3 linked regions of the Homo sapiens genome follow. The protein of the gene in region 2 interacts with the protein of the main gene of each other region in a pairwise test. Each region holds a gene or a part of one and is shown on either strand. Other genes may lie near its edges.

Region 1 (7,470 bases), on a different chromosome or scaffold from region 2:
GCACATCTAGACGCCCTTGCTGTTCCCGATCCACTTGCTCAAACAGGCTTCGCACTTCACTCTCCTGGCTTGAATCGCACACCACAGGCACACATTGGCCCCCGAGGGATTGTGCCTGGAGTAGGACAGGGGATATGAGCTCACATTCACACATGGGTGTGAGTCATGACAAAACTCCCCAACCAAAGTGGGCTTGAGAACTGAGAAGACAATCAATCCTAGGAGAGCCTGCTGCAGAGGCAACATGGCAGGCAACGCTGCCCTCTGGTGTCTGTTTGAGTAGTTTCAGGAATGATAGGCCTCCCCACCACAGAGCAAGGTGAATTGCAATGTAAGTTTTAATAATCTACAAACATTTACTGAGGCCCACCATGTGCACAGCATTGTACTTTGCAAGTAGAGGGTAAGAACAAGTGAGGCATGGAGTCTGCTCTTGAGAAATGAGTAAGCATCCTTTTCCTTGTTGTGGTCATTTCCATCTCTCATGCCCTTAGCTCCCACCCTACACTACTCACCTAAAACCTCTACTCAGTCCCAGTTGTCTTACCCTCACTCCACCAATGCTCCTGGTTGGTAATTGAAAAAACCAAAGCTATCAGCCATGAATGATTTCTACTTCCTGTTCTGTCTCACTCTCTACAAATGCCCACAAACCTCCAACTTCAGAGGAAGAAGAGTCCTTTATCTAAGAACAATCCTCCTATTCTCCAAATTTATGCTCTGGGTCCCCGCCTATTACCCTCCTTGCCTGAACTACTGCAATGCCTCCCAACGACTCACCTGACCTCCAGTCTGTCTGCCTTAAATTAATTCTTCATAATCCAGCCAGTACGACCTATCTAAAACACAAACCCTGTTCAAAATCTCCTAACTGGATCTCCATCTCTTAGAGGATGAAGCCTGAGTTCTCTATTAGGGTCTTCCAAGACCCACTCTTTCCTCTCCAGCCTCTCACTCACTACTCTTCCCTTGCATTATCTCACACATCTACTCTTTCACACAGCGTCCCTATGCTTATGGAGCTCCCTCTGCTGGAATGCTTTTCCTAACTTCCTTTACCTAATTCTTACCTTTCAAAACTCAGTTCAAGAACCACCTACCTCCTCCAGGACGCTTTCCCAAACCACTTTCCCTAGCCACTCTCCTATGTCATCTGGATGCTCCCCAACACCCCTAGAGTATTCTGTGCATATCTCCCTCTTATAATTTACCATATTCACATTACATTGAAGTGACTGCTTTCTGTACCTGACTTCCTGTTGGAATCTATCTTCATTTTTAATTAAAATTTTTTTTTTTAGAGACAGGGTCTCACTGTCACCAGGCTGGAGTGCAGTGGTGCAATCATAGCTCACTGCAACCTCGAACTCCTGGGCTCAAACGATCCTCCTGCCTCAGCCTCCCAAGTAGATGGTACTACAGGTGCAGGCCACTGTGCCTAGCTAATTATTTAAAAAATATTTTTTGTAGAGACTGGGTCTAGCTATGTTGCCCAGACTGGTCTCCAACTGCTGGCCTCAAGTGATCTTGCTGCCTTGGCCACCCAAAGTGCTGGGACTACAGGCATGAGCCACTGTACTCCACCATGGACTGAATCTTTGAAGAGCAGAAATTAGATTTTATTAGTCTTGGTAACTTCAGTGGTTTACCAATGCCTAGCAAATCATGGATACTCAAATATTTATTTAACTGAAGTCTAGTAAATAAGTAAAAAATGTGCAGTTCAATAAAGTCTTGCCTGAAATAGAGGAAAGCACAGGTCCACAACCCTTTAGTTGCAATTCCAAAATCTCTGCTCTCAAACAAAAAGTTTTTTACTTTTCTTTCTTTTCTTTTTTTTAATACAGTGTCTCGCTGTGTCGTCTAGACTGGAGTGCAGTGGTGTGATCATGGCTCAACTCCTAGGCTCAAGCGATCCTCCTGCCTCAGCCTCCGGAGTAGCTGCTGGGACTGCAGGAACGTGCCACCATGCCTGGCTCAAACACAAAGTTTTTTCATAAAACTCACTTGGCGGCAAAATTCTACCTTACCTGAAGTTATTTACGGGGTTTTTAATTTCCACTTTGAATAAATATTCACATCTTGTTGAGTAGTATTATAGTTTCAGGTAAGGGATTAGGAAAGGAGCTGTTAAGTGGAAGGGCTCTCTCGGGTGGTTTCTGCAACTGTGGTCCCAGAGGAAGCACTCACCTCCTGAGCAACAACGCGAAGGGTGTCCAGATGGCGGCCAGTGATGTAAACTGTGGCGCCTGCTTTGCAGAGCTGCAAGGCAATGCCACGGCCAATACCCCTGGAGGCACCAGTCACCACACACACTTGGCCATTCATGGGAGCTGCCATGACTCACAGGCAAAGGAGGCAGGTCTGTGGAAGCAAAGACTTACTCTGAGGGAAGCCTGGAGACTGTGTGTGTGTTGGGGCGAGGTTGGGGGGTAGGGGAGAACCTCACTAGGGCTAAGAGGAGGAGCCAAGGTAAGAATCCTTTGAGGGGAGAGGAGTCAGAGGCTGACAACTGGGTGCGGGCCTGAGGACAAGGCTGACTGTCTTTTGGGAGGCCCAGAGAGTGAAGAAGGGGCTGAGTGGGACTGTCCAGAGGTGGACAACTACTACAACCCTCTGAGTGTGGCTGCCTGGATATGGGAATCTGGCGCGGCAGCCCCTCGGGGCGCGTCCACGCAGAGTCCTGGGCTATCTGAAGCTCCGGTCCCTGGCCTGACCCAGTCCGGCTGAGCCAGAGGCGCAGCTTCCGGGCCGGGGATGAGCGCGAAGCCTGGAGATCCTAAGCCCTAAGTGGGACGAGCGTGCGCCGCTTACCTGCCACCTGCGCTGCCGCTGAGGTCTGCAGATTGCGGGGCTGCGGTGGAAGTCTGGGTTCTCGCCCAGATTGAGCCGGCGACGTGGAGGCAGTGTTCAAGGATTGATTCTGTAGTAGGACCCGGGGCGATTCTGTGCTGAGGTAGAGGGGCAGAGTCCCAGGCCAAAGTTAGAACCTGCGGATGGGGGCGGAGCGATCTGGGTGACACACCCACCCCGCCCGGCTGGGGCGGCGCGGAACTATGACGTAGTAGCTGCGTCAGGAGCGCGCCCGCGTTTCTAAACTTTGTCTGGATAAGGCGCACGCTTGGCGACGTCGAAGGTCCGTCCGCAGTTAAGGAAGCTTTTGCAGCCGGACAGGTCGCGAAGCACACATGGGGCAGGGTCCGCGCTCTCCACACAAGGTGGGGCGCCGGTTCCCAGCTGGTGGCAAACGGGGGCGCGGGGCCAAGGGGTCGGGGCGCCCCTTACCAGGCCGTAAGCGGCAACCCTGGCCGCCTCCGGATGGGCGCTCGGAGCCGGCTCCAGATTCGCACCCGCACCTGAGCCCGGAAGCTCTGGGATATTTCCGCCGGGCGCTGTCAGCATTGAAAGAGGCTCCCGAGACTGGGGAAGAACGAGGTAGGCAGCAACTTCGGGGTTTAGACCAAGAGCATCAAATCCAGGGCAGGCAAGGAAACTTTCTAGGGTCGGCAGGGCGTGGGGACTTAGTTTCATTTCCCATGTCCTCTTCCTCGGCCTCCGACCCACGACCCTTGGTTAAGCGAGGGTACATAACTGTATTCTCTACTAAGTCTCTTCAAAGTGTGTCTTTCTTCCCTTTTCAGATCTGATGGTGCACAATATAATGAAGGAAGTAGAGACTCAGGCCCTAGCTTTGTCCACGAACAGGACTGGCAGTGAGATGCTGCAGGAACTGTTGGGATTCAGTCCCTTGAAACCGCTTTGTCGCGTGTGGGCTGCTCTGCGCTCTAACTTGCGCACTGTGGCCTGTCACCGATGCGGGGTCCATGTATTACAAAGTGCTTTGCTACAGCTCCCTCGATTGCTGGGGAGTGCTGCAGAGGAGGAGGAGGAGGAGGAGGAGGATGGAAAGGATGGTCCCACGGAGACCCTGGAGGAGCTGGTCCTGGGACTAGCCGCTGAGGTGTGTGATGATTTTCTTGTCTACTGTGGAGACACACATGGCAGCTTCGTGGTCAGAACTCTGCTTCAGGTGTTAGGAGGGACTATTCTGGAGTCTGAGAGAGCCAGGCCCCGTGGTTCCCAATCATCTGGTAAGTATTACAAGAGGAAAGTGGACCTAGGGGGAAGAAGAATTTAGAAAGTTCAGAATGAGACAGTAAACAGAAGAGTAAGTCTTCATGGGGGAGCTTGACCGGGAAGAATTAGCTTGACCTGTCCTAATCTGAACAGGGCTTAGCAAGCCAAAGATTAGTGTGTGCGGAGGCCCAGAGGTAGGGATGTACAGTTGTGTTTGGGGAAGGCTATTAGAATGGACGCAGGAGGAGAATTTTTTTTAAGCATGACTTAATATACAAATGGACTTAAGCAAAAGTAACATACACACTGGACTCAAGCAAAAGTTCAGGAAACTATACCCTTACTACATGCAGCCCACTCTGTTATTTTTTTTTCCTTTTCAAAACTATTCTGCTCTATTTCATTTAAAAAAAATGCTAGTTGAGACCACTAACTTGATTTCATGGTACAGTCTTGAGCTGTGATCCACATTTTGAAAAACTAGGAAATAAAGTTAGCGAGTTTAAATGAGGCTTTATTTTGGAATGGCTTGAATACCTGGCTGAGGAGGTTGAACTGTCTTCTGTGGACCATGGGGAAGCTGGTTGAAGTTTCTTAGAAAAATTAAGACAGAAATGTAGTCTCAGTTCAGTCATCCAGAAGAGACATTTAGTTGTACTACATCTGTTCTGCATCTCCAAGCGGAATCCTTGTTCATCTGTGAAATTTTTCTCTCCTGGATGGCAGTTTGTGATCTCCCCACTGCACATGTTCTTAATCTTCCTTCAGAAGCACAGAAGACCCCAGCTCAGGAATGTAAGCCAGCTGATTTTGAAGTCCCTGAAACCTTTTTGAATCGCCTTCAGGACCTGAGCTCCTCCTTTCTGAAGGACATTGCAGGTAAGGAGGGAAGTAGGAGGATGGTCTCGTATCTACTTGTCTGGAGGTCATCTTACCACCAAGCAAGGCCCTTACCTCAGGTTATTCCTCTTCTTTTCAAACCTGGTCTGGTTTGACGTTCAGAGCACTTTGTATAGTCCCTTTGTGTCCATAGTGCCCTGTATCTTGTTGCCTAAAGTTTGAGGTTACGCAGGTTGTCTGGATTTTGGGAAAGCCGCTTTATTTCTGCCCTCTCTCCACAGTGTTTATCACTGATAAGATCTCCAGCTTCTGTCTTCAAGTGGCTTTACAGGTTTTACACCGCAAACTTCCCCAGTTTTGCGCTCATCTCTGCAATGCTGTGATTGGCTACCTGAGTACTCGCGGTTCCTCAGTAGATGGCAGGTATGGTCAGGGCCTCAGGATCGACCCAAGTTGGCGGGGCTGTGTGAAATGAATGAGGTGATGTAGTGCAACTGTATTTTGCATGAAATGGAGTTAAGACTGCCTGATGCCCTTCTTGTCCCTAGTCCCCTACTGCTATTTCTCCGAGATCAGACGAGTTCCAGACTCCTGGAGCAGGTCCTGCTGGTGTTGGAGCCCCCAAGACTCCAGAGCCTCTTTGAGGAGCACTTGCAGGGGCAGCTGCAGACCCTGGCTGCACATCCCATTGCCAACTTCCCTTTGCAGCGCTTACTGGATGCAGTCACTACCCCTGAGCTGGTGAGTTGGAAACCTGAGCTGGATCTGTTTCTGCTAATTCTTGATCACTGGACCTTATTTTATGGTCTGTCTGCCTCTATATACCTTTGACATTGTGCTGGCCATTGCCCTTGAAAAGCTATTCTTTGAGGTTTTCCAGAGCTTAGGATAAAGGTGCCCACCTTCTAGTGAGGATTTGTTTTGACTTCTCTCAGGTATGAGGACCAGCAAGAAACTGGCTTTATTCAGGTTTACAGCTTGAGGTTCCATGGCCCACCCAGACTCTGGTACTTGGCTATAAGCCCACATGAGTGCTAGAGCTGTTGCCATAGCTTCTCTTTTCCTTTGCTGCTTAGGACTAAGGTGGGCTTCCCTGTGGTCTCATGCATTGGGTGTTAGAGTGGAAGTGCAGTTTAATTTTAGTCTCCCCTTGCTCCTAGTGCTCCCTTACACATAGGGAAGAGCCACTTAAAGTTCCTTCCTGTGAGGTGGCACCTCTAAGACTGCCCCCTTATCCTGGGCCTTATCTAGCCAAACAAAAGTCCTGATACTGGCAATGCTTTTTATGTTTTATCTAGCATTTTTAGTTGTTTTCGTTGGGAAGATTTCTCTGAATAATGTGGTCCGCCATTACCAGAATGCCAGAGTTACATTCCATGTTTCCCATCAGCTGTCCCCTGTGTTTGAGGAGCTGAGCCCTGTCTTGGAAGCTGTATTGGCCCAGGGCCACCCAGGGGTAGTCATTGCCCTGGTGGGGGCCTGTCGCAGAGTTGGGGCCTACCAAGCCAAGGTCCTACAGCTCTTGTTGGAGGTGAGTGGATATTACCCACAATCTGTTTATGCCCTCAGTTCAACTTCTACCTTTTAGGACTTATCTAATCTTAAGTTTTTGTACCTCTGGACTCAGGAAGTCTAATGCCCAAGGAGTTCACAGGAATGGGGGAAAATGAGGCCTATAGGTGCCCGCCACCATACCCAGCTAATTTTTTTTTTTTTTTTTGAGACGGAGTTTTGCTCTTGTTGCCCAGGCTGGAGTGCAGTGGCGCAATCTCAGCTCACCGTGCCCGGCTGAGGCCAAATGTTATTTCACAGTCCTGGAACAAAAATTGTCTCCCAGAACTAAGAGAGAAGTTTATTTAAGGGATAAACATTTATTAACCCCTGTATGTGATAGAGGCTGGGGATACAGCAAGGCATGACATCTGCTTTCATGGAGCTAACATTCTTGTGGAGTTGGGCCTTCTTTCCTTTCCTGAAGGTGTTCCCTTAAAGTTGAGGTAAGGGACGGAGAAGTTCTCAGGTTCATCATATTCTGTCTTCTCCTTTAGGCATTCCACTGTGCAGAGCCCTCATCCCGGCAAGTGGCCTGTGTGCCTCTCTTTGCCACTTTGATGGCTTATGAGGTGTACTATGGACTGACGGAGGAGGAGGGGGCAGTGCCTGCAGAGCACCAGGTGAGGTAGGGGAGAGGCCAAGCCAGTGACTAATTGGGAGTCAGGCCTCCCAGGGTTTAGCAAGCGTCTGACTTCTGAGGTGAGAGTGGTGACTTCATCCAGGTGGAGGTGGCAGTGTTCTGGGGATGGGCTCATCCACCTGGCTTGTTGGTGCCTCCTAATTTCTTATCTCTGCGCTGCCAGGTGGCAATGGCCGCAGCCAGAGCCTTGGGGGATGTGACAGTCCTTGGGTCTCTACTGCTCCAGCATCTGCTGCACTTCTCCACTCCTGGTCTTGTACTTCGAAGTCTGGGTGCCTTGACGGGACCACAGCTTCTGTCCCTTGCCCAAAGTCCCGCTGGCTCTCATGTGCTCGATGCCATCCTGACCAGCCCCTCTG
Region 2 (6,334 bases):
GCCAGGAAAACAAGTGGGAGAGCCACTGTTCTGCCTACCTTCCAAAATCCTACTTTCCCCACTACGGCTACATTCCCTAAATCCATCAACAGTACACCTGCATCAAAGATACCTCAAGATTCAAGTCTACTTAAGATTGTTCTTCTACTGTCTTTGCAAATGTCAGAAAGGTAATAATGCTTCCAGGAGACTGAATAAAAGCAAGAGGCAACTAGTACTACAAACATTTCCAAAGTAATACAAAATATATGATAAAGAGGGAAGAACAGTAAATGAATGTCATAATTTAAGAAACATTTAAGACTGGACTTTAATTTTGCAGGATCTTTTTATCTCCCTCTTACCCTTTATTTTTAAACCAAAGACTCCAAGAACATTCTAGTTGGAAGCCCTCCAAAAGAAACAGTATTCTCTCATATACTGCTGATAAAAGTATAAATTGCTTAGAGTTTTCTAGGGGGCAACATGGCAGTAACAAAAGCTTTTAAAAACTGGCATACCCTCTTCACTAGCAATTCCACTTCAAAGCATTTATCGTGAGAAAATATGAACACATACGAGATTTAGCAACACAATGTTCTTTAAAGCACTTTATTAATGAAAGTTGGAAACCTAAAAATTGAACAGTAGTTTAATAAAATGTGGCACATATGATGGAATATCATGCAGCCATTAAGAGATGTAGAAATATACTTGACACAGCAAGACAGTCATGGTATTGTTGAGTGAAAAAAAGTTACAAAACAGTATGTACACTTTGATCCCATTAAAAATATCTATAAATGCACAGAAAAGTCTGGAAGGCCATATACTTAAATAACAGTGGTTCTCCCTGGATGATGGAATTATCAGTGATTTTTCTTTCTCACTGAATCTTTTTTCTTTTTGCCAACAGGGCTATGACTTGTATTATAAAAAAGCATTAACAATTCTTTAAAAAGTGTCCTTTGAAGTAAGAATGAGAGCAGAACTTAGCAATCTAAGAGGCACAGGGATGTACACATGGTTTCTGATACTGTTTTAACGGTTTGTCAAGGTGTTTTGATGTTAGTCACCAATTAAAAGGCACTGTGTTGAGTGAAAACGTGGATGGTGGTAGTGCTTACTTTAGACTAAGCAATCCATTCCTAGAAACCTTCCACAGCAAACAAGTACTGGCATTCTAAGCAATACTTCCCACTATGATATCCTTATACCTTCCTACCCACTTGTAATACAGCCCAGAAGTTTCCCCTACATGGACAGGGCACTGTTGTTGGTTAAGGGTTACAGAAGGCAGAGAGGATTTTTCAAGTGATGTCAGAGAATAGGCCTGAAGGTGAAATGAATGTTCTCTTAGTTCTATTGCAGTGGTTCTCAAGCTTAGAGTGCAACAGTATTACTCAAACAGCTTTTACAACAGATTGCTGGGCTCCACTCTCAGAGTTTGATTCAGTAGGTCTCTGAAAAGGCTTATAAATTTGCATTTTTCTTTCATTCAACAAAAATTTATTGAGTTCATACTATGTCCTAGATCTTGTGCTAAGAGTTGGGAATGTAACTGCCATCAAAAGAATTATAGTTTTTATCTCAGGGAGCCTACATTCTAGAGTGACAGATATACACTAAACAAATAAATTATAAAAATAACTATAATTACAATGACTACTGCTAGAACACAATTAAGATTAGAAGACTCAGTTTTTGTCTTAAAATATTTAAAAAGCTGTCACATGGAAGACTGATTCCATGAGCCCTTGAAAACAAAAAATAAGTAAAAATGAAGGTAGAAAGTTCTTGAAAATAGTAATCAGCATTTTAAACAAGTCTCCAGGAGATGCCAATATTGCCGGTCTGGGGTCTCACACTTTGCCAATCACTGCTCTACTGAGTAGACATTTTTTCTTTCCTTGAGACAAGAGTCTTATTCTATCACCCAGGTTGGAGTGCAGTGGTGCAATCTTGGCTCACTGTAGCCTCTGCCTCTGGGGTTCAAGTGATTCTCCTGCCTCAGCCTCCCGAGTAGCTGGAATTACAGGTGCACGCCACCATGCCCGGCTAATTTTTATATTTTCAGTAGAGACAGGGTTTCCCCATGTTGGCCAGGCTGGTCTCGAACTCCTGACCTCAGATGATCCACCCGCCTCAGCCTCCAAAGTGCTGGGATTACAGGCATGAGCCACGGCACCCAGCCCTGAGTAGACTTTCTAATGAGCGTAATATGGGAGAAAGGGCAGGGGTGGTTGTGGAACTCTCTCTCCAGCGTTTGAGACTCACATGAGGTAAAAGCCACTTCATCTTATCTGGAGGTCTTGAGGCAAAGTTGGCTATAGGCTAAACTATGAAGCTATCTCTCCATTACAGCACCTCACTGAAGCTTAAAGTGCTAAATAGTAGGGCAATATTTCAGAATTTCAGGTGTTTGGGAGATAGGGAAGGAATTTTTCTGGAATTCTGTCAGCATGGAGGTGAGTGGGGCCTCTATGGGTAAACAAGTCTGTGGGTTTTTGCCTTGCCCTCCATTGTCTTCTCCACTCCACAGTTTATCCCAGAAATGTTTCCCCAACACTAGCTTCCCAGTCTCACTTTGTTCTTTGTTCAGGGGGAGGATAACAGGAGACTATGAAGATGACTCTACCCCACTGGTGATCCTGGCCTCAGGATTTATTTCCCATGTGACGCAGAGTGAGGAGGCACATTCCCATTTTTGAGACCTCATTTCTTGCAACATCAATTTTTCTGATTAGCACCATAAAAAGTTTTAACACCATGACCGTTTAGGTTAGATTACTTTGAGGAAAAAGGTAGACACAATCCAATCACTTTTTTTTTCATTTATAGAAGAGCCTACAATTATTTTAGTTTTTCATTCATATGTGCATCCTTCACATGTCACTATACTTTCAGATTAAGCTCAGTGGCACAGAGCTTATTTAAACAATTCTGAACTGCACCATGAATTAATAGGCTTCCCAAGCTTTTTCTTCCACGCCCAAGAAACTTCAGGCCTTTACCTGAGTAAAAACTAAACTTGACTTTAAAATAAGCCAAAACCAAAATAAAACCCAAACAACCAAACCCCATTAAAATAAAAAGCAATAAACCTAAGAACAAGCATATATATTGTGGTGGTTCTGTGGTAGACAAACGTACCAGAAGCCTTTGAAGCTTAACATTATTGAAGGTTTCTGTACATTACTGGGTAACTAAAATCAACTTTCACTTGATGGAAAGCTGAAAGTTCTGAAAAATGATTTATACTGACTGTGGGAAGGTTAAACCTGGGGTCTGATTTAAAGAGGGTGGAGGATAGGATTGATAGAGAGAAAACAGAGCCCAGATGTAAAAGAGGTATCTCTGGTGCACAGTGATATGCAAGGCCTATAGACTTGGTAGGTCAGGATGCTACAGGGGCTAACAAGGGGAAACTGATATTTACAGGATGTGTTTACTATGTGCCAAGCCTTTCCCTGAAAGGCACCTGAAATACAAGATAACATTTGCTAATCCTCACAACCACCCTATGGTGTCATAATTATTGTCCTCATTTTACTGGTAAGGAAAAGGCAGTTATACATCTCATTTGAAGCTTAAAGAGCACAATATGTGAGGAAGACTGGATTTGAACCCAGGACCATTTCACTCCATTACCGATATTCTTTCCCCTGTATTACTACATTTCCCATAAACCTAATTCATAGTTGCTGTTTAAGTCGATCTGAAGTTTTGGTATGATCTTTCAAAGCCTAAATCTGGACTTATAAAACACAATAGATGGTACTCTAGGCTGTAGAACTTCCTTTCTGAGGGGAGAGAAAATTTCATTTACTTGGTTTTACAGAAAACTGACCAGCTTGAGCAGCTTTTCAGGGTTTCTTTAAGAATATGGCAATTGAGAGTGAGTCAAAACATCTTGTACAACTATAAAACTGCAGAAGAATTTGTCTCATGGCACAGAAATAAAAGGGTAACTACTACTTTTAAAGTTTAGACTGTGAGTTAAATTGTCAACATGTTTACCAAGTTCTTATTAGGAGCTCTTAACACAAAATTTTAAAACGGTGTTTAAGTATTCATTTTTTTAAAAGTACCAAAAAGTATCATTTTAATAGCTTAACATTCCCTCAATAAATGAACTATACTTTTGTACTTCATGCTTAAGTTAGAGTAAATTGCTTTAGTTGTCAGAATGTGCTATGCTATCTTGGTTACACATCTTTTTATCTGGAACAGTTCTTCCCCAGACCCTCTCTCACTCCCAAAACTGGAGTTACATGACTCCCAAATACAGTACCTTGTATTTTCCCCATCACACCACGAATCCTACTATAGGATAATTGCTTAATTTTCTGTATCCTTTAATGGTCTTTAAGCTCTGCAGGGGCAAGAACTGTGTGCATATTGTTCAGGACAGTATCCCCAGTTGACCAGCACAGTATCTGGCCCTCAACAAATGTTTGTTGAATGAATGAATTAGAACAGAAGTCTTAACATGGAAACAATGATTTATAGCAATGGCCCCAACAGCAATTTTCTAGCTTCCAATGTGTCACTAATAATTTCATTAGTATGTGTTTCATAAGCAGAGATCCTCATCAAGATAGCCTGTGTTCATTAATAAATTTTCAATGTTTTAATAGTAAGCTCAGAGTGACCCAATTTATTTTGTTCGTATACAATTTATAATGTAGTTGCATTATTCCGTATTTGTATACAAATCTGCTGTTCAATAAGAACACATTCTCTTTACTGTACCACAGTACAGTAAATGGATCCAATCCCAATTATGCATTAAATTGTGCCAACTGAATAATCTTAAAAACTTTATGTTTAATGAAGTAAATTTGTCCTAGATTTTCTAGAACCTTAACTACAAATTTATCAGAGAAATACGGTATTGCTTTTCAAGAACTAGTTGTTCTTAAATTTAAAAGAAACCATTCAGTAGTGTTTAAAAAACCAAACAACTCTGAAAATAACCCATCAAAACATAATATTAAAATCATTTGATTTCTGTTGGAAAACCAGGTAAACATAGTTTAAATGCGTTTTTGTCTATGAAAGCATTCAGAAAATTCTACTTTTCACAAAAGAGGTTTATATCCTACAGCTCTTTTTAAGACCGAAAGTTTAAAATAAATTTTAATTTTATTCTTTGGCTATTATTTATACCTAATAAATGAGTCGCTGATATCAATTCACAATAGATTTATTTTACATAAAAGAAAAAGCTTGCTGTTAATGAAAAATCCAGTAGAAAACAGTTCTGCTTTAAGTTGAGGCTCAAAAGTAGAAGCTGCTTATTAGTGAAACCTCAATAAAAAGAGAATTTTGTAAGAAAACATTCTTGGCATGAAAGCTCTAACATAAATTCTGTAATGAAATATTTACCATGCAACTTTATTGGCAGAAAGGCCAGTTTCTGATGGCTGGTATTTTCAGTCTCTTAACACATTAACATGGAAGATACTTAACCTGCTTTATTTAGAGTTAATTGTATATAAATACAAAGTCATGATGGGCAACCTTTCCATAGTCCACCTACTTAATTGAGCAGTTCTAAGTAGGTAATTGGCACCTTGCCCTTCTGGTTTCCCCTTTCCCCCATTAGCCAGTCTGAATCCATTCCAACAACACTGAACACAGTGATCACCTGCAAAATAAAATACTTCCAGTTATTAACTACATTAAAAAAATAAACAAGTAGAAAACCAATCAGATTTGTATTTAATTTGTTTAAATTATTCACCAAAAGGACTTTAAACGTTATTATCAATTGTGCTGAAAAACAAAGGATTTATTTATTATTATTAGTTTTTTGAGGCAGGGTCTCACTCTGTTGCCCAGGCTGTAGTGCAGCAGCATGATCACGGCTCACTGCAGCCTTGACCTTTCGTGTTCAAACGATCCTCCCACCTTAGCCTCCTGAGTAGCTGGGACTACAGGCGCACACCACCATGCCCAGCTAATTTTTCATATTTTTTGTAGAGATGAGGTGTCGCTATGTTGCCCAGGCTGGTCTTGAACTCCTGGCCTCAAGTGATCCCACTGCCTTGGCCTCCCAAAAGTGCTGAGATTACAGGTGTAAGCCACCATGTCTGGCCTAGATAAAGGATCTTATTGGAGGGAGTTTTATACATCTTCAAGTTATTTGGCAGTTAAAAGTTTTAAATATTTCTATGATATTCTATTAAAGAATATTAATTAAAATTTTATGTTAATATAACTATCTGTAATCTATGAAACCATTTCCAAATAACTAATGAGGAATTTGCATTTTGTTATAATATTAGAAGGTATGTCAATTCGTGATATATTTTCCTTCTCATACCCACAATACTCACCTCATCTGCCA
Region 3 (3,104 bases), on a different chromosome or scaffold from region 2:
TAAAAGAGAATAACTAATGAACTAAGGAGTCACCCCGGCGCCCCACCTCCCCTCCTTGCCTAACCTGTCTCCCATTTCTCCAGCCTGGGCGGAGGCAGGGAAAGGAGAGACAGTAGGGTCTGAAGATTAGGGATGGGGTCAGGCAATGTGAGGTTTCCTCCTATTCGGACCCCTTGGGGATTTGAGGAGAGGGTTCCACAGGGGCTCGGAAGAGGCTTGGCTAAGGGACCAGAATTAGAACCAACTCCTAGAAAGACCGGGCATTTGGTGGCCAGTAGTGGGAGGGTGAGCAGGGCTACTCAGAGAGTGACAGAGTGATTGGCAGGAGAGGCTTCCCAGAGGATGCTGCTCTGCCTAACACTTTTGAAGGGGCCTGAAATGGTGCAGCAAGCTGAACTGCGGTCGGTGGGTCCGGGTGGAGCTTGTTCTCACCACCTCTCCCTCCTTTCTCCCCCGGCCAACCTCCTCCCCGGCGCCCGAAAAAGACACACTGAGAAATCAGAGCCGGGTAGACTAGGTGGTTAAGGAGTTTATTTGGGAGAGGAGAATCATATTTGTTCTTCCTTGGGGAGGGGGGTTCTTTGAACAATACCGAAGGGTTTGGGAAAGGGTAGGGGTCTGGAGGGGAGAAGGAGGGGCCACAGCCAGACAAAATGGCAACACACGATCACAGGCACTACTGACATCACAGACATAGCAGAGGGTGCAGGATAGGGGCTCCAGACCAGGCCTCCAACCACCCCAGGACGGGTGGAGGTGTGGAGGGAGGGAGGGCGCAGGGGAAGGGGGAAGAGGGGTGGGCCAGTCCCACAGACCCGTTGGTTCTGTCCTCCTATTAACCTAGCTGTTTCATCACGGGAGTGGGGAAGGGTGTGTGTGGTGGGGTGCTTCTCTCTGGATCCCACGCCTCACCCTACAAGCCATATCACTCGACTCTTCTCAGGCCACTTCCGTCCCAAGTCGTAGCCAGAGCCATTCTCCCCCACCCCTAACAAAACCCATCTGGAAGCTCCTATCCAAGTCCCCTCTCCACTGCCCAAACCCAGCCATTGTAAAACATTTTCTTCACTGCACCATGGGGAGGGGCTGCCCTTTCTGAAACCACCATGGAAGCCCCATTCTAAGCCCCACCCTGTCTGGAACCCTGGCTTGGCCCATTCCTGAATCCCACTTCTTGCCTTGCTCAAGATCTGTCCCCTTTAGAATCAAGCTCAGTCTCCCAAATGTTCCAAGCCACACCCTTTCCATAGGCTCTGGTACCAATCCAAGACCCACCTACTCTGGAGCCCACCATTCTGCCTCGCTTAAAGCCTCGCCCCTTCTAGAACCCTGCCCTCAGCGCCCTTCCAAGCCCCACCCCAGAATGCTCTAGCGCACTCCTCTCCTTCAGACTCCAGATCCACTCTGTCTGGAACCCAACCCCCCTGCTGACCCCTCCACTCCACACCTCCTCTCCAAGACCACCTTGGGTCCTAAACTGTCCTCTCTACCCCAAGCCCCCCCAATCTCTGCCTTTCTTTAACCCTGGAGTTGGATTTCCCTAACGGCCTTTGTTCAGGCAGGCATTGCTGGAGGAACCAAGGCCAGAGTTGGGAGGAGTGGAGGGAGAGAGAGGAGAGAGTCTGAAGTCACGCCCACCCTCCCCACACAGCCGAGGTCTGTTCCCTCCCTGTCCTCCTTTTAGATCCCCTTAACCTCAGGGGACAGGGAGGGTAAACAGAGAGGGGCCAAGGGATGCAGGGAAAGGGACGGGGTAAGAGAGGGGGCCCACTCAAGACTGGGCACCTAGTGGATGAGGGGAGTGGAGTGAGGGCAGGGCTCAGACAGATAAATAGATATTTATATATAATATATATATATATAAACAGCAAAGACAGGGTCTCCTGGCTTGAGGGGTGGAGACCTAGGGTATAGGGGTGGGAAGGGGGGCAGGCCTTCTCCTGAGCTCTTGCCCCCCCCAGGTCCTCCTGGGCTTCACTGACCTGTAGAGACAAAAGACACAGAAAGGAGAGGGGGTCTGACATGGGTGGCGCCCTCAGATAGGGGTTGGGCTGTTATGCCTTTGTCCTGGCTTTATGTCTTTTCTTCTTTCCTGGAGCCAGCTTCATCCCAGCTGCCTCTGCTGAGAAGATATACCTGACCTTGCCCCCACTGGGTTAGGTACCAAAGAGATTACAGTCTCCTTCCTCCAACCAAAAAAATAGTCCCTTAACAGGTACTGTTCTAGCCATTTGTGATAAACTATATTGAGCAAAACAAAGATCCCTGTCTTTGTGGAGCTTATACTGAAGCAGAGATAGACTTCACACAGCGAACATGATGCATGAGTGGATTATCTCGTATAACATAGGGTGACAATAATAAGTGAAATGGAAAAAATAAAGTGAGCTGGGCATGGTCGCTCACACTTATAGTCTCAGCTACTTGGGAGGCTGAGGTGGGAGGATCACCTGAGCCCAGGAGTTCAAGTCTAGCATTCCTAAAGTGCTAGGATTACAGGCGTGAGCTACCACGCCCAGCCTGCGACAGGGCAGAGTTCTGACACAGGAGGACTGTGGCCTAATTTAGGATTTAACAGAATCCCTCCAGATGCTGTGAGTAGAACAGAATGGAAATGGAGACCTGAGAAGAGGTCTGGGAGAGATGACAGTGGAAGATGAAGGATATATTTTTTGAAGGTAGGACCCACAGGATTTTTTGATGAATTAGATGTGGGATGCCCTTTCCATCCTGGCTAACCCAGTGTCAGAAGCTACCTCCATCCAAGTATTGCCACCTTCTTGCCTTCCCCCACTTTTTAGCCACCCCTTAGCCTTTTCCTCCTGCCTTTCCTCCCCTATATCCTCCCTCCTATCTGAGGGAAATCTCACTTCTCTTTTTCTTTTTTTTTTTGTTTTGAGACAGAGTCTCGCTCTGTTGCCCAGGCTGGAGTGCAGTGGCGCAATCTCGACTCACTGGAACCTCCGCCTCCCAGATTCAAGCGATTCTCCTGCCTCAGCCTCCAGAGTAGCTGGAACTACAGACGTGCGCCACCATGCCCGGCTAATTTTTATATGTTTAGTAGAGACGGGGTTTCACCGTGTTGGCCAGGCTAGTCTCGAACT

What was found. Proteins that work in one complex are often made in the same cells at the same time.
Region 1: the proteins of SH3GLB1 (region 2) and DHRS1 interact in binary tests that used the Homo sapiens proteins (3 or more experiments, as listed by UniProt).
Region 3: the proteins of SH3GLB1 (region 2) and SYP interact in binary tests that used the Homo sapiens proteins (3 or more experiments, as listed by UniProt).

The regions. Positions count from the first base shown.
Region 1 is NC_000014.9:24,296,767-24,304,236, forward strand, and holds the start of DHRS1 (dehydrogenase/reductase SDR family member 1), read right to left. Parts: upstream 3,015-7,470; 5' UTR 2,815-3,014; exon of another isoform or gene 2,365-2,814; 5' UTR 2,341-2,364; coding exon 2,191-2,340; exon of another isoform or gene 1,848-2,190; intron 116-1,847; coding exon 1-115. Other genes in the region: NOP9 (nucleolar protein 9), read left to right, coding at 3,189-3,435, 3,642-4,091, 4,804-4,956, 5,199-5,340, 5,466-5,658, 6,308-6,448, 6,966-7,091, 7,275-7,470. UniProt on the Homo sapiens protein: NADPH-dependent oxidoreductase which catalyzes the reduction of steroids (estrone, androstene-3,17-dione and cortisone) as well as prostaglandin E1, isatin and xenobiotics in vitro. May have a role in steroid and/or xenobiotic metabolism.
Region 2 is NC_000001.11:86,742,426-86,748,759, reverse strand, and holds the end of SH3GLB1 (endophilin-B1), read right to left. Parts: coding exon 6,324-6,334; intron 5,633-6,323; coding exon 5,525-5,632; 3' UTR 576-5,524; downstream 1-575. UniProt on the Homo sapiens protein: May be required for normal outer mitochondrial membrane dynamics. Required for coatomer-mediated retrograde transport in certain cells. May recruit other proteins to membranes with high curvature. May promote membrane fusion.
Region 3 is NC_000023.11:49,187,301-49,190,404, forward strand, and holds the end of SYP (synaptophysin), read right to left. Parts: intron 1,983-3,104; 3' UTR 515-1,982; downstream 1-514.